Linked DNA regions of Homo sapiens. The protein of the gene in region 1 purifies or fractionates together with the protein of each later gene. This does not show direct contact. Each region holds a gene or a part of one and is shown in the gene's direction. Other genes may lie near its edges.

Region 1 (3,500 bases):
CTGAGGCCGTGGTCTGCTCTTGACCAGTAAGCTGAGAAGCTGGGGAGAGACAGTGCGGGAAGGAGGCATTGGTGGGGAGGTGACTGCCAGACAGGGGTTGTCTGGAAAGGAGGGGAAGGAGAGGCGCCAGAGGGGATCTCTGTAAAATGTCTCTCCCCTAAGTGCTAAATTCCTATTTTTTCTCCTCTCTGCTAATCCAACTCCTTTTGCTTTAGGTGAGAATAGCCAAGAGTTCAGCCCCACCTTTTCAGAACGCATTTTCATCGCTGGGTCCAAACAGTACAGGTAAGCAGGGGAGACAAGCCTGAGTGGGAAGGTGGGGACTGGACCCAGCGCCCTCGTCCCCAGCACTTGCCTGGGCCGCTCCTGCTGACCCCGGGCTCCCTCCCTCAGCACCTGTGGTTCAGCTCCTGGAACTCACCCAGGCTTTCCTGGCTGAGCCGCTCTCTCAGCCAAATAAGCTTTTCAAAGGCTTTTCACAGCTTGTGGCTGACTGCCTCTGGGCCACATCAACTTGACATTTTATTTTTATTCTCCTCAGAGTCCTTAATGCACCCCCTCGTTTCCCATCAACAGGGAGGGTGCTGGGAACAGAAGCTGCTTCCCACTCTTGCGTGACCGTGAGCGCAGGCCGGGTTGGTGGGGGGGGCCTTCCACTGTCCTCTATGGGAGAAACCTGCTGGTGCCTTTTCTCCTGGGAGATGCACCGAGTAGGGATGCGGGCGGTAGAAAAGGAGGGGACAGATAGACTTGGTGGCCCGGTAGAAAGGAAGCCAGGGTGGGGCTGAGTCTGTTCCCAGGCTCTGCATTCCCCCACAGATGATTTTTTGAAACAAGAGTTCAAGTGCTGGGCACAATGGCTCTCACCTATAATCCCAGCACTTTCTGAGGCCGAGGCAGGTGGATCACGAGGTCAGGAGATCGAGACCATCCTGGCCAACATGGTGAAACCCCGTCTCTGCTAAAAATACAAAAATTCCCTGGGCATGGTAGCGCATGCCTGTAACCTCAGCTACTCAGGAGGCTGAGGCAGGAGAATCGCTTGAATCCAGGAGTCGAAGGTTGCAGTGAGCCGAGATTGTGCCACTGCACTCCAGCCTGGTGACAGAGTAAGATTCTGTCTCAAAAAAAAAAAAAAAAACAAGAGTTCAAGCTAGAAACAGCTCCTTCCCCTATCACCAGGCAGGTTTTGTATCATTGGAGTTTGGAACCTGCTAGTGATAAGATTGTGGGGAGGGCAGCTGGCTGCCTTGGAACCAAGAAATGCTCAGTTTGGTGGGATTCCTTCTGCTGTCCTGGGTGCCTTTTGGCCCAGGGTAGGAGCCTCTGATAGACACACTTCTTTCAGCTGTCCAAGAGAAGCCTGTAGGCCTCCAGTGGTCCCCAGGACTGCCATGAGTCTGCCTTCTCCATGGGGGCAGAAGATGAGGCCAAGGGAGGGTGGCTGAGGCCATGATCTGCTCCACAGCTGTTCTGCAGCAACCCATCTGTTGCCGGGTCCTTTAATACTTGGCAGGGATCCCAGTCCAGTTAGAGCCATGGCAGTGATGAGCCCCGAGGCCAGCAGAGAAGGGCAGGCTCCCCAGTACCAGGCAGCAGCCCAGGCTGTTCACCTTCAACAGCAGCCAGGGACCCCCAGGAACTGTGAGAATGGAGGTGACCAGCCTTACCTGTTCCTCCATCCGGAGGCAACAGAAACAAGCTCTGCTCAGTCAGAGCTGAGAGGCCTGCCATGAGCGTGGCCCCCTCCTAGGAACTCTCCAGGGGCAGCTCACCTTGGAGAGCAGTGAGCGAACCGTGTCTGCTCCCCTGACTCTCCCCAAGAAGTGCTGAGTCTGTACCCCATCACCATAGTAACAAGCACAGCTTCTCGGCAGCTTGCCTTGGGGCCAGACACTGAGCTGGGCTTTTTAAATGAACTAAATTATTGAAACTTCATTTCCACCCTGTATGGCAGAAAATACCAAACCCATTTTATAAGTGAGATAAGTGAGAAAACAGGTTCCTTGGGATTTAGAAACCTTGCCGCATTCACACAAGGAATGGCAACCTGGGATTTGACCTTGGATCTGCAGGAGTCCAGATACAAGTGTCTGGACCAGTCCATCTTCCTGCTTCCTCGTGCTCAATATGCAAATCTGTCCCTTTTGTGACAGCCAGTCCGAGAGTCTTGATCAGATCCCCAACAATGTGGCCCATGCTACAGAGGGCAAAATGGCCCGTGTGTGTTGGAAGGGAAAGCGTCGCAGCAAAGCCCGGAAGAAACGGAAGAAGAAGAGCTCAAAGTCCCTGGCTCATGCAGGAGTGGCCTTGGCCAAACCCCTCCCCAGGACCCCTGAGCAGGAGAGCTGCACCATCCCAGTGCAGGTGAGACCCTCCACCCACTGCCCAGACCCCAGGTTCATGGGGCCTTGAAATTGGAGCCTGTCCCTGGGCCCTGGCCCTCTGTGCTGATAGCTGTGTTTCCCCCCGCAGGAGGATGAGTCTCCACTCGGCGCCCCATATGTTAGAAACACCCCGCAGTTCACCAAGCCTCTGAAGGAACCAGGCCTTGGGCAACTCTGTTTTAAGCAGCTTGGCGAGGGCCTACGGCCGGCTCTGCCTCGATCAGAACTCCACAAACTGATCAGCCCCTTGCAATGTCTGAACCACGTGTGGAAACTGCACCACCCCCAGGACGGAGGCCCCCTGCCCCTGCCCACGCACCCCTTCCCCTATAGCAGACTGCCTCATCCCTTCCCATTCCACCCTCTCCAGCCCTGGAAACCTCACCCTCTGGAGTCCTTCCTGGGCAAACTGGCCTGTGTAGACAGCCAGAAACCCTTGCCTGACCCACACCTGAGCAAACTGGCCTGTGTAGACAGTCCAAAGCCCCTGCCTGGCCCACACCTGGAGCCCAGCTGCCTGTCTCGTGGTGCCCATGAGAAGTTTTCTGTGGAGGAATACCTAGTGCATGCTCTGCAAGGCAGCGTGAGCTCAGGCCAGGCCCACAGCCTGACCAGCCTGGCCAAGACCTGGGCAGCAAGGGGCTCCAGATCCCGGGAGCCCAGCCCCAAAACTGAGGACAACGAGGGTGTCCTGCTCACTGAGGTAACTAATCCCCCGGCACCTGTATATGTCCCTCTACCAGCAACCTGGGGGATGCTTTTCTCTCTTTATCAGAGTCACTCTTGCCTGTGGTGACAAATCAAACAGTAGGACAGTGCTCATTGTGGATGAAAAGTATCATCTCTTATTCCGCCAATCTCACTTCTCACAGCCTTTTTAGCGTCTTCTGTTCTGAGTTCTTCTGGTTGGTCACCTCCTGCTTGCTGAATGTGGGCACTGCATTAATAGTACACATGCTGAGGACAAGGGGAATCAGCCAGGAGCCACTGGAGATGTTATCATGGCCCCCAGAGACGGAAGATGAGGATGGGACCTGTTTTCACCACCCACCTCCTTCCCTTTTTCCTCTTGTTAACTTCCCAAATAATTTTATAACTTTAAATGATTTTATC
Region 2 (3,500 bases), on another chromosome or scaffold:
GCTGGGGGAGGCCTGTCCACTTCCCCTCCTCTCCTCTTCCACCTCCTTTTACCTCCCCTTAACCACCCCTTCTTACCCTTGTGTTCTCTTTGCTCATTCCATCGATCTTCTTTAGAGAGACTCGGGACTGGCTTGAATGTATCCAAATAAATACACCTCCTGGAGTTCCTCAGTGAAGTCGAACTTAGCCCGGGCTGTGGCAGGAAGGTGTATGAACCTGGATGCCTCTGACCCATTGGACTTTGGTCCATAGGCAGTGAGAATGGTGTTGTTCATTCTTATGGTTTGGGGAGTGTTGTCTGACAGAGGGGCCTGCTGACACTGTCTCCTCACCCTCTGTGCAGCTTCTGGATGTGAAATTCCAAACCTGGCATCTTCTGGGCCTCCCAAGACTGATTCTTCCTGTTTCCCAACATGCAAATTGCAGGCTCCATAACTCCTCAGGAGCTATTGCTGGCAAAAGGCTATTTTCCCTCACTGAATTTTTGAACACGTTTCAGGATTGTAATGCAGAAGTTTTTATCTCTGATCCTGGGTAGCAGCATTTATTGGCACTGGGGAAGAGGGAAACAACAGAGTGGAGATGGCACACTGTGGGCCTGCTGGCTAAAATGCTTGTGGCTGAAAGCCTGCAGATGTGTTTGGTTTGGTTCGGTTCACATATTTTTTAAATCAGTCAATTTCACGTTGAGAGAAAAATTTTTTAAAAGTGTCTGGCCTAACATGAAAAATCAAAACATCTTCCAACTCAGCAATCACATTTCTAGGGCAATCGGCCATGACAGAGTGTCACTGTCTAATTTTAGGTGGGGGCGGGTGTTTTTACTACAGTCTCCACCACTCCCCATGGTCTCACACCTGGCCTGTGTTTGTGCTCCTGTGCATCTTTGACCTTGGGTGGGGAATATCTTGCATCAGGGTCATGGCTGCTGAGGCTCCTGGGCGTGTGTGCTCCAGAGATAGGCCTCCACTCTGCTCTGACTCTGCTGTTGCTTTGTATGGGGACTGCTCATGCCTTGGGTACGAATCGCTCACTCCTAAAGAGGAGCAGGTGAGAATGTGGGACATCAGAGAGTGCCTGGGTTTGTTTCTTCTCTGAATTTATTAGCCTGAAGAAAGAATTAGTGAAACCTGAAGTTTGGTGGTAGGGTGGGGATAGAAACTGTTGAAGGCCTTGATTTCTATAAATAGTAACCTCCATGTATGTTTGACAGGTGAAAGGAAAGCAAGCCAGGATGGATATTTACGACACTCAAACCTTGGGGGTTGTGGTCTTTGGAGGATTCATGGTTGTTTCTGCCATTGGCATCTTCCTGGTGTCGACTTTCTCCATGAAGGAAACGTCATATGAAGAAGCCCTAGCCAACCAGCGCAAGGAGATGGCGAAAACTCACCACCAGAAAGTCGAGAAGAAAAAGAAGGAGAAAACAGTGGAGAAGAAAGGAAAGACCAAGAAAAAGGAAGAGAAACCTAATGGGAAGATACCTGATCATGATCCAGCCCCCAATGTGACTGTCCTCCTTCGAGAACCAGTGCGGGCTCCTGCTGTGGCTGTGGCTCCAACCCCAGTGCAGCCCCCCATTATCGTTGCTCCTGTCGCCACAGTTCCAGCCATGCCCCAGGAGAAGCTGGCCTCCTCCCCCAAGGACAAAAAGAAGAAGGAGAAAAAAGTGGCAAAAGTGGAACCAGCTGTCAGCTCTGTAGTGAATTCCATCCAGGTTCTCACTTCGAAGGCTGCCATCTTGGAAACTGCTCCCAAGGAGGTGCCGATGGTGGTGGTGCCCCCAGTGGGTGCCAAGGGCAACACACCAGCCACTGGCACTACTCAGGGCAAAAAGGCGGAGGGGACTCAGAATCAAAGCAAAAAGGCTGAAGGAGCCCCAAACCAGGGCAGAAAGGCAGAGGGAACCCCAAACCAGGGCAAAAAGACAGAGGGAACCCCAAACCAAGGGAAAAAGGCAGAGGGAACCCCAAACCAAGGCAAAAAGGCAGAAGGAACCCCAAACCAAGGCAAAAAGGCGGAGGGGGCCCAGAACCAGGGTAAAAAGGTAGATACAACCCCAAACCAGGGGAAAAAGGTGGAGGGGGCCCCAACCCAGGGCAGAAAGGCCGAGGGGGCTCAGAACCAGGCCAAAAAGGTAGAAGGGGCCCAGAACCAGGGCAAAAAGGCAGAGGGGGCCCAGAATCAGGGCAAAAAGGGAGAGGGGGCCCAGAACCAGGGCAAGAAGGCCGAGGGGGCCCAGAATCAGGGCAAGAAGGCCGAGGGGGCCCAGAATCAGGGCAAGAAGGCCGAGGGGGCCCAGAATCAGGGCAAGAAGGCCGAGGGGGCCCAGAATCAGGGCAAGAAGGCTGAGGGGGCTCAGAACCAGGGCAAAAAGGCCGAGGGGGCTCAGAACCAGGGCAAAAAAGTAGAAGGGGCCCAGAACCAGGGCAAGAAGGCTGAGGGTGCCCAGAACCAGGGCAAAAAGGCCGAGGGGGCCCAGAATCAGGGCAAAAAGGCCGAGGGGGCCCAGAACCAGGGCAAGAAGGCCGAGGGGGCCCAGAACCAGGGCAAGAAGGCCGAGGGGGCCCAGAACCAGGGCAAGAAGGCCGAGGGGGCCCAGAACCAGGGCAAGAAGGCCGAGGGTGCTCAGAACCAGGGCAAAAAAGTAGAAGGGGCCCAGAACCAGGGCAAGAAGGCTGAGGGGGCCCAGAACCAGGGCAAGAAGGCCGAGGGGGCTCAGAACCAGGGCAAAAAGGCCGAGGGAGCCCAGAACCAGGGCCAAAAAGGAGAGGGAGCCCAGAATCAGGGTAAAAAGACAGAAGGGGCTCAGGGCAAAAAGGCAGAAAGGAGTCCCAACCAAGGCAAAAAAGGAGAGGGAGCTCCCATCCAGGGCAAAAAGGCAGATTCGGTTGCTAATCAGGGCACAAAGGTAGAGGGTATTACAAACCAGGGGAAAAAAGCAGAAGGGTCCCCCAGTGAAGGCAAAAAGGCAGAAGGGTCCCCCAACCAAGGCAAAAAGGCAGACGCAGCTGCCAATCAGGGTAAAAAGACAGAGTCAGCTTCTGTCCAGGGCAGAAATACAGATGTGGCCCAGAGCCCAGAGGCACCAAAGCAAGAGGCTCCTGCCAAGAAGAAGTCTGGTTCAAAGAAAAAAGGTGAGCCTGGTAAGTAACTGATTTCTTTATGAACTTAGAAGGAAAGGCTGTCTTTAAATGACTTATGGATTCTCTCGGGGAGTGCCACCTGTATCAGTCAGCTATTGTCATAATAAGGCTGCGTAACAAACATTCAAAAAAAAATTCAGTGGCCTTCAACAGCAGTCATTTATTGTTGCTCATGCTTCTGGAGGTTGGCAGATGTGAGCTTTCTCGGTTGGTGGCTCTGCCTCAATCTGGTTTTAACTGGGTTGGTGACTCTTTGCTACAGGTTGAGCTCAGGTCAGTTCCATGTGTGGTCCTTCTGGCGCCCTCCAGGGCAGAGGCCCTTCATAGTTACAACAGAGGCACAAAAGGGCATT
Region 3 (3,500 bases), on another chromosome or scaffold:
TCCGTGGGCACTGATGTCACCGAGTAAGTGCTCTTTGGCTCCCTGCCACCCAGCCTGTTACCAGTGTAAGCTGTGGGCTAGAGTTGACAGGAGGCCATTAGACCTTAGACAAGCAGTACTTATTACTGACCTCTCCCTGGGCATATGAGACCAACAGATGGACCTTTCTTCTCATGCTGATTGAATATCAATGGGCAGGAGAAGCCAAGACCACCAACCATGCCTCTCAATATTCTCTAGTAACTCTAGTGCTTCTTCATGTAGCCTGGCTTGACTCTTGCTATCTTACAGGGGCCCTGCTCACCCAGCCCCCCACACTAGGCTGTTCCATGCAAATGAGGAGGAGGAGCCAGAGAAGAAGGAGGTATCGGAGCTGCGCTCTGAGCTATGGGAGAAGGAAATGAAGCTTACAGACATCCGCTTGGAGGCCCTCAACTCTGCCCACCAACTGGATCAGCTTCGGGAGACCATGCACAACATGCAGGTCAGTGTCTGGGCGGACAGCTGCAGGAAAGGGAAGACCAAGGCTTGCTGTCTGTCCAGTCTGCCACCCTACCCTGTCTGTTCTTGCCACAGTTGGAGGTGGACCTGCTGAAAGCAGAGAATGACCGACTGAAGGTAGCCCCAGGCCCCTCATCAGGCTCCACTCCAGGGCAGGTCCCTGGATCATCTGCATTATCTTCCCCACGCCGCTCCCTAGGCCTGGCACTCACCCATTCCTTCGGCCCCAGTCTTGCAGACACAGGTACCTGTGTGGGAGAAGAATCTATAAGGGTGAAGGGAAGAAAAGGGCTTATTTCACTGTTACACCATTCCACTTGCTTTGGTCAGGGCGGTAACAATGCCGAAGCCAAGCAGATGCCAGTGTCCTAAGACACTGAGTTGTAATGGTCCTTCAACCTTAACTACTTTTGAGTTTGGGACCTCCATTCCTTCTCTGTGGCAAACAGAGTTATTTTGGAAAGGATAATGATGGGAAAGTTTAGGAAAGGCTGCGGGTACTCCTAAAACCAGTTGGTTCTTTTCAATCCCCACAGACCTGTCACCCATGGATGGCATCAGTACTTGTGGTCCAAAGGAGGAAGTGACCCTCCGGGTGGTGGTGAGGATGCCCCCGCAGCACATCATCAAAGGGGTAAGGAACTTCAGGGAGAGCCACAGTGGGAATGAACAAATACTGTTACATTTATCCAAGAAAATCTGGACCCTGGGTACCTCCAAAACCAAAGAACTCAACTCCTAAGGCCTTTAGGACCCCGGTTCATGGAGTCATCTGCAGTGAAGCTCAAGAGCTTTTCCTTCCTTGGCCTTACAGGACTTGAAGCAGCAGGAATTCTTCCTGGGCTGTAGCAAGGTCAGTGGAAAAGTTGACTGGAAGATGCTGGATGAAGCTGTTTTCCAAGTGTTCAAGGTAAAGGGATACCTGTACTCAAAAAGGTTGTTCATCCTCTCGTGGAATATATATACTTTTTTAGAGACAGGGTCTCACTCTTGCCACCCAGGCTGGAGGGCAGTGGCGTGATCACAGCTCACTGCAGCCTTGAACTCTTGGGCTTAAGTAATTCTCCTGTCGCAGCCTCCTGAGTAGCTGGGATTACAAGCATGTGCCACCATGCATGGCTTCTCACAGGATATTAAACCGTCCAGGCACTGGGATCCTGGGGACCTTTGAGGCTTTATGGAGAAATGCTACCTAGGAAAAGCATATGCTCTGCACTTTCTCCATCTATTTCTGTTTCCTCTGATAGACATTCTTTGTTGTGGCTTTTACACCTGTGTTTGTATATTTTCTTCTTCTTCTGCCTGTCTTTTCTGTCAGGACTATATTTCTAAAATGGACCCAGCCTCTACCCTGGGACTAAGCACTGAGTCCATCCATGGCTACAGCATCAGCCACGTGAAACGAGTGTTGGATGCAGAGCCCCCCGAGATGCCTCCTTGCCGTCGAGGTGTCAATAACATATCAGTCTCCCTCAAAGGTCAGTCTTTGTCTCTTGGGGTGAGGTGGTGTGGCATGAAGGCAGGGACAGGATCATCAAATAATCCATCATGCATTCATTCACCAAGAACTCACTGAGAAGGTATAATATGAAGATGCTTAAGTAATGTGAGATATAAAAAGATGAGTAAGACCCAGTCCTAACTTTGGCTCCCAGGGACACTTTTGCTAAGCCTTGGCTTCTTGCTTCACTCCTCACCCCCAGCTCACAGCATGTCCCTAAAAAGAAGATCTAAGTTTTCAAAACTAGGGGTTAAGGGACTCTTATGGAACCATGGGGCAAGTGGCTCTGAGTTTCTTCAGGGGGCTCCTAGATAAAGAAAGAAAAGCCCTTTAGGATCCCTTGCTATCCTCAAGACCCTGGTCAATACTCATGCTTTCTGGGGTGGGGGTTCAGGTCTGAAGGAGAAATGCGTCGACAGCCTGGTGTTCGAGACGCTGATCCCCAAGCCGATGATGCAGCACTACATAAGCCTCCTGCTGAAGCACCGGCGCCTCGTCCTCTCGGGCCCCAGCGGCACGGGCAAGACCTACCTGACCAATCGCTTGGCCGAGTACCTGGTGGAGCGCTCTGGCCGTGAGGTCACAGAGGGCATCGTCAGCACCTTCAACATGCACCAGCAGTCTTGCAAGGTGGCTGCCCCCCGACACCCCTGCCAGCCTTTGTTCATGCCTCAGCCTTCCCTAAGACCCTTCCTCGGCCCCTTCCTGCCTCATTGTTCCCTTTTCCTCACCTCTGCCTTCATCTTTCTTCTCTTCTGTGTTCATTTCCTTCCCTCTCTATCTATCCCCTTTTCCAGTCTTCTCCTTTCCCTCCCCACGATTTCTTTCCAGCCTCTTGCCTTTAACTTGTTTCTCCACACTTTCCCTTGCCTTTATGGAGAAAGGCTTTCCTCTCCACACTTTTCCTTGCTTTGTGCACCTTCCTCCTCAGTTGGTCATTGATGAAACTGCATTCTCCTCATTTCTACCCCACTGTCTGCCAACCCTGTCAATCCCATCCCTTCTCTTTTGTTCTCTTCCTTCTACTTTTCTTTTCAGTATTACTCTCTGACCTTGGGCTATCTGGGAAGAAGCACTCAGAATTAAATGGTACATATTACACCCTCCCCTGCCAAAACCTGATGATGTCTCTTGAGTACCCTAATACAATGGAGTTGGTTCAGATCTTTGCTCTTCCCAGCTCGGGGAGGCATGCCCATTAGTAGTAGTCCATGGTACCAGTGAAAATCCATCTAGGAAATAGCATATGTTCCCCAACTTTGGGGAATTTAGGGGCTGCTGCTTAAGAGGGTTGCTTTAGAGCCTTTGCAACCACTGCTTATCACTCTGTGGTAATCTGCTGTAATCAAATTTGCAAGGAACTAAAGGCCCCAGGGGAATCTAGATCTAGTAAGACTTCTTCAAAATCCTGATTTCCAAGGCCGATCCAGCTGCTTATTCCCAAGTGCTGACCCACAGCCTTCTTTTATTCCAGGATCTGCAACTGTATCTTTCCAAC
Region 4 (3,500 bases), on another chromosome or scaffold:
TGGGGTAGTAGCTGGAAGAAGATAAGGGATCAGAGCAAGATTTTTGCTTGATTTGATTTGCTTTTTACAATGCAGAGTTACCCCTGGTCTCTCCCTTACCCGTTACCTCACCAACAACTTCTAAAGCCATTAAATGGGCAGATCAAGGTAGGCACGTGTGTTTGCCATAAACCCACATATATATATACACACATACATAGACACACATATATGTGTAACATTGTGTGTGTGTGTTCCATGGTTCTGTCTACTGAAAGGTCCTGAAAGCCGTGATATCTTAGTAACAGCATTGAGCATACCTGTCCCCCAATTTTTTGTTTTTAAATAACATTCTCAAACAAAAAGAATTCCCTTTGGAGAAATGGCTGATTTCAGAGCTGGGACAGAGAAAGTATAATATGAGCCTGGAACATCTTGTTGTGCCAGAAAGCGAAGAAGTACTCAAAGAATGTTGGAAACACATCAATAGGATATGAGCCAGCTTGAAGGGGTTCCCATTGGCCAGTAATGATAGTAACAGATTACAACTCATTGAAAAAAATAGAAAACCATGAGTCCATACAAATATAAATAAATAAACCAATATATTGAAAAATTTGATAACGAATAGTATATTTATGCACTTTGTAAGTACTTCCTCACAAAGTACTCATTAATTACAAAGAAGGAAAGAGTCAACTTACAGTGGAGGACTCTGGTGGCAGATACCACCTTAACCACTTATCAAAGTGAACATTATCAGTAATGGCACAAATTGAAACTATATGCCACCTGACAGGATGCAGTGAGGAGAATGCAGTGTCACTTTTGTGACATCCCCCTGGGGATGCAAAAACAATATCTAATCATTAGTGAACACCAATAACCCAAGTTGAGGGATATTTTACAAAATAACTGGTTTGTAATCTTTAAAGAAGTATCAGGGTCATGAAAACCAACGTGGTGGCTCATGCCTGTAATCCCAGCACTTTGGAAGTCTGAGGTGGGTAGATCACGAGGTCAAGAGATTGAGACCATCCTGGCCAACATGATGAAACCCCGTCTGTACTAAAAATACAAAACATTAGCTGGGAGTGGTGGCACATGCCTGTAGTCCCAGCTACTTGCGAGGCTGAGGCAGGAGAATCGCTTGAACCAGGGAGGCAGAGGTTGCAGTGAGCTGAGATCGCGCCACTGCACTCCAGCCTGGCGACAGAGTGAGACTCCATCTCAAATAAATAAATTAAAAAAAACTGCTCCAAACAAAAAGATATAACTTACTTTAGTGCATAATTCTAAACGGTGTTTTTGCTATAAAGGGCATCATTGGGATAAATGGTGAAACTTGAATGGGATCTGAGAATTACATTTAACTTTTCTGTAACTTTGTGCTTATTTCAAAATTTTAAAAAATTGAAAAGGATGGGTGCTATTTCACTGGGTATATATGCTTGGATGGAAATGATAGAAAAGGTGAAAACATAGTGAAGGGATAGCGTTAACATGCTGTGTCTAGTTGATGAGAATAGAGAGGCTGTTGGTTTCAGATATGAACTTGGACCACTTACCCAGGGTAATGGGAGAGAAGAAAATTCTAATGTAAATACAGGGAGCTGGGTAGATTTGCTAATGAGAACGTGGAAATTGTCTTCTGACTGTTTCTCTTTCTTGATGAAATAATGAAGGACAGTATTTGGCTCTTAGGGGGAGGAAGGGATGTTTTGAGAAAAGAAAAGAAAGTTGAGTTATGGCTGTATGGTCAAGAATTGCAGACATTGTTGGTGGGTTTTTTTGTTTTTTTAAGTTGTTCTTTCTTTCCCCTGGAAGTTGTACAATAAGTTAATTTTATTCCACTGGCTTAAAGTAAGTTTGTTGTAAAGAAAAATAAAAGAGTATTTTATTTAAAGAGATGAATGAAATGTATCCGATTTCAAAATGTTAAATTGATAGGCGAAAATAAAGTTAGGTGCTCTGGGACTAAGCAAATGAGTATTCTAGTCAGACTAGGTTTGTCTTCCTTTTCAGTCGTTCACGAAGATTTACTCATAAATAGTTTGTGTTGCAACTGAGAGTGCCTAATTTTGTAATGAAGCATTTTGTTTTTTACTTCTAAAAAAAATTCTGAACATAGCTGTATGCACTGTATCTTATCCCCTGTGCTGTGACACTCACTGTCAGCTCTCATTGCCTCTCCAGGCTGGTGAGATTGGAGAGATGAAGGATGGAGTCCCAGAGGGAGCACAACTTCAGGGACCGGTTCATCGAAATCCAACTTACCGCCCAAGGTACCGTAGGTATGTCGCATTTTCCACTAATGGCCAGTTAAAGGACTTGTGTGCACAATGGTAGAATGAGGACTGTGTGGTTCCGTTTTGTGGATTTATTATATATCTAGAAGATGTGAATGCTTTGACTACATGCCAGAGTTTTCAGGTGGTGGTGTGACATTTCCCACCTACTTAATACTAGAATTTTTAGTTATCTCTGCGCCAAAGCGTCATTTTGTATTCTGGAATTATAATAAGATGTAAATTAATACTTAATTTTTATCAAAATAAATCAGATAAATTATTGGTGGGCAATTCTGTGGTAATGCTGCAGATGGAGGAAGAATTGAGTGTCAGAGGATATTTGGGATAGTGACTGTTAATCACTGAGGCAGTCCAGTAGAGGGGTTAAATCAGGGTATGATCAAATCGCCTGAATTTATCTTCCTACTCTACAGTTCATTAGATGTATGTTCTTGGACTGCATTCCAGCCTGCGCAACAGAGTGAGACCCTGTCTGAAAACAAAGAGATATTCTATAGTTGGGGATTAAAGGTACTAATGCAGCTAAGATAATTAGTGTGGTACCTGATAAAGTAAAGGCCTCACTATGTATTAGATATTATTACCACCATTGAGGTTAATATTAGTGAACGCTGGGTTATTCTATTTGTGCTTTATTCCTTTGGAAGACTGAATTAGGCTAGACTCCTTCCATAAGATCCCTTTGAAGCATTTTATAATATAAGCCTGCCCATTCTTTTATCTTACCCTTTGTGGTAAGTGGAAAAGCTACAACTTCTTCCTGAATGATGTTTATGCTACCTTGAAATTTGTCAGTATGGCTTTATTGAAGGATAAAAAGTATATTATATTGGGAAAGGATTCCACCAATATAATTGTAAAAGGATCGTATCCTTTTTCTTCACAAGGTTCCCTCCAGCTTTAGGCATAATCACTAATGATTAAGTACTAGGGACTTTGAAAATAAAAGAGACGGCATAGAAATGTCTTACTGGAACAAAAAGGATTCAGTAGCGTGTGAGGCTCAGCTTTGTCAGTCCCTGGATATGTGATCTTGGAAAGTCATATTTGACCTTTTTTAACCTATAAAAGCAGCACTTTTATATAGCTCAGCCGTATACTTTATCATGTAAACCTCTTGGTTTTCTTGTTATAAATCTCATCCACAGAATTACCATTCAAATTAAATATTTAATTTTAAAACCGACTAGCACAGGCTCTGGCACATAA

The links. The genes of interacting proteins can lie anywhere in the genome.
Region 2: the proteins of MAP3K14 (region 1) and RRBP1 purify together in Homo sapiens (affinity purification with mass spectrometry; one large-scale study listed by BioGRID and IntAct). This does not show direct contact.
Region 3: the proteins of MAP3K14 (region 1) and NAV1 purify together in Homo sapiens (affinity purification with mass spectrometry; 2 studies listed by BioGRID and IntAct, with this or other methods). This does not show direct contact.
Region 4: the proteins of MAP3K14 (region 1) and YBX3 purify together in Homo sapiens (tandem affinity purification; one large-scale study listed by IntAct). This does not show direct contact.

Annotation. Positions count from the first base shown.
Region 1 is NC_000017.11:45,286,021-45,289,520, reverse strand, and holds part of MAP3K14 (mitogen-activated protein kinase kinase kinase 14), read left to right. Parts: intron 1-215; coding exon 216-285; intron 286-2,156; coding exon 2,157-2,367; intron 2,368-2,475; coding exon 2,476-3,090; intron 3,091-3,500.
Region 2 is NC_000020.11:17,658,243-17,661,742, reverse strand, and holds part of RRBP1 (ribosome-binding protein 1), read left to right. Parts: intron 1-1,214; 5' UTR 1,215-1,235; coding exon 1,236-3,147; intron 3,148-3,500. UniProt on the Homo sapiens protein: Acts as a ribosome receptor and mediates interaction between the ribosome and the endoplasmic reticulum membrane.
Region 3 is NC_000001.11:201,808,127-201,811,626, forward strand, and holds part of NAV1 (neuron navigator 1), read left to right. Parts: coding exon 1-23; intron 24-291; coding exon 292-484; exon of another isoform or gene 485-576; coding exon 577-745; intron 746-1,037; coding exon 1,038-1,135; intron 1,136-1,315; coding exon 1,316-1,411; intron 1,412-1,819; coding exon 1,820-1,979; intron 1,980-2,396; coding exon 2,397-2,632; intron 2,633-3,476; coding exon 3,477-3,500. UniProt on the Homo sapiens protein: May be involved in neuronal migration.
Region 4 is NC_000012.12:10,702,824-10,706,323, reverse strand, and holds part of YBX3 (Y-box-binding protein 3), read left to right. Parts: intron 1-2,175; coding exon 2,176-2,273; intron 2,274-3,500. UniProt on the Homo sapiens protein: Binds to the GM-CSF promoter. Seems to act as a repressor. Also binds to full-length mRNA and to short RNA sequences containing the consensus site 5'-UCCAUCA-3'. May have a role in translation repression.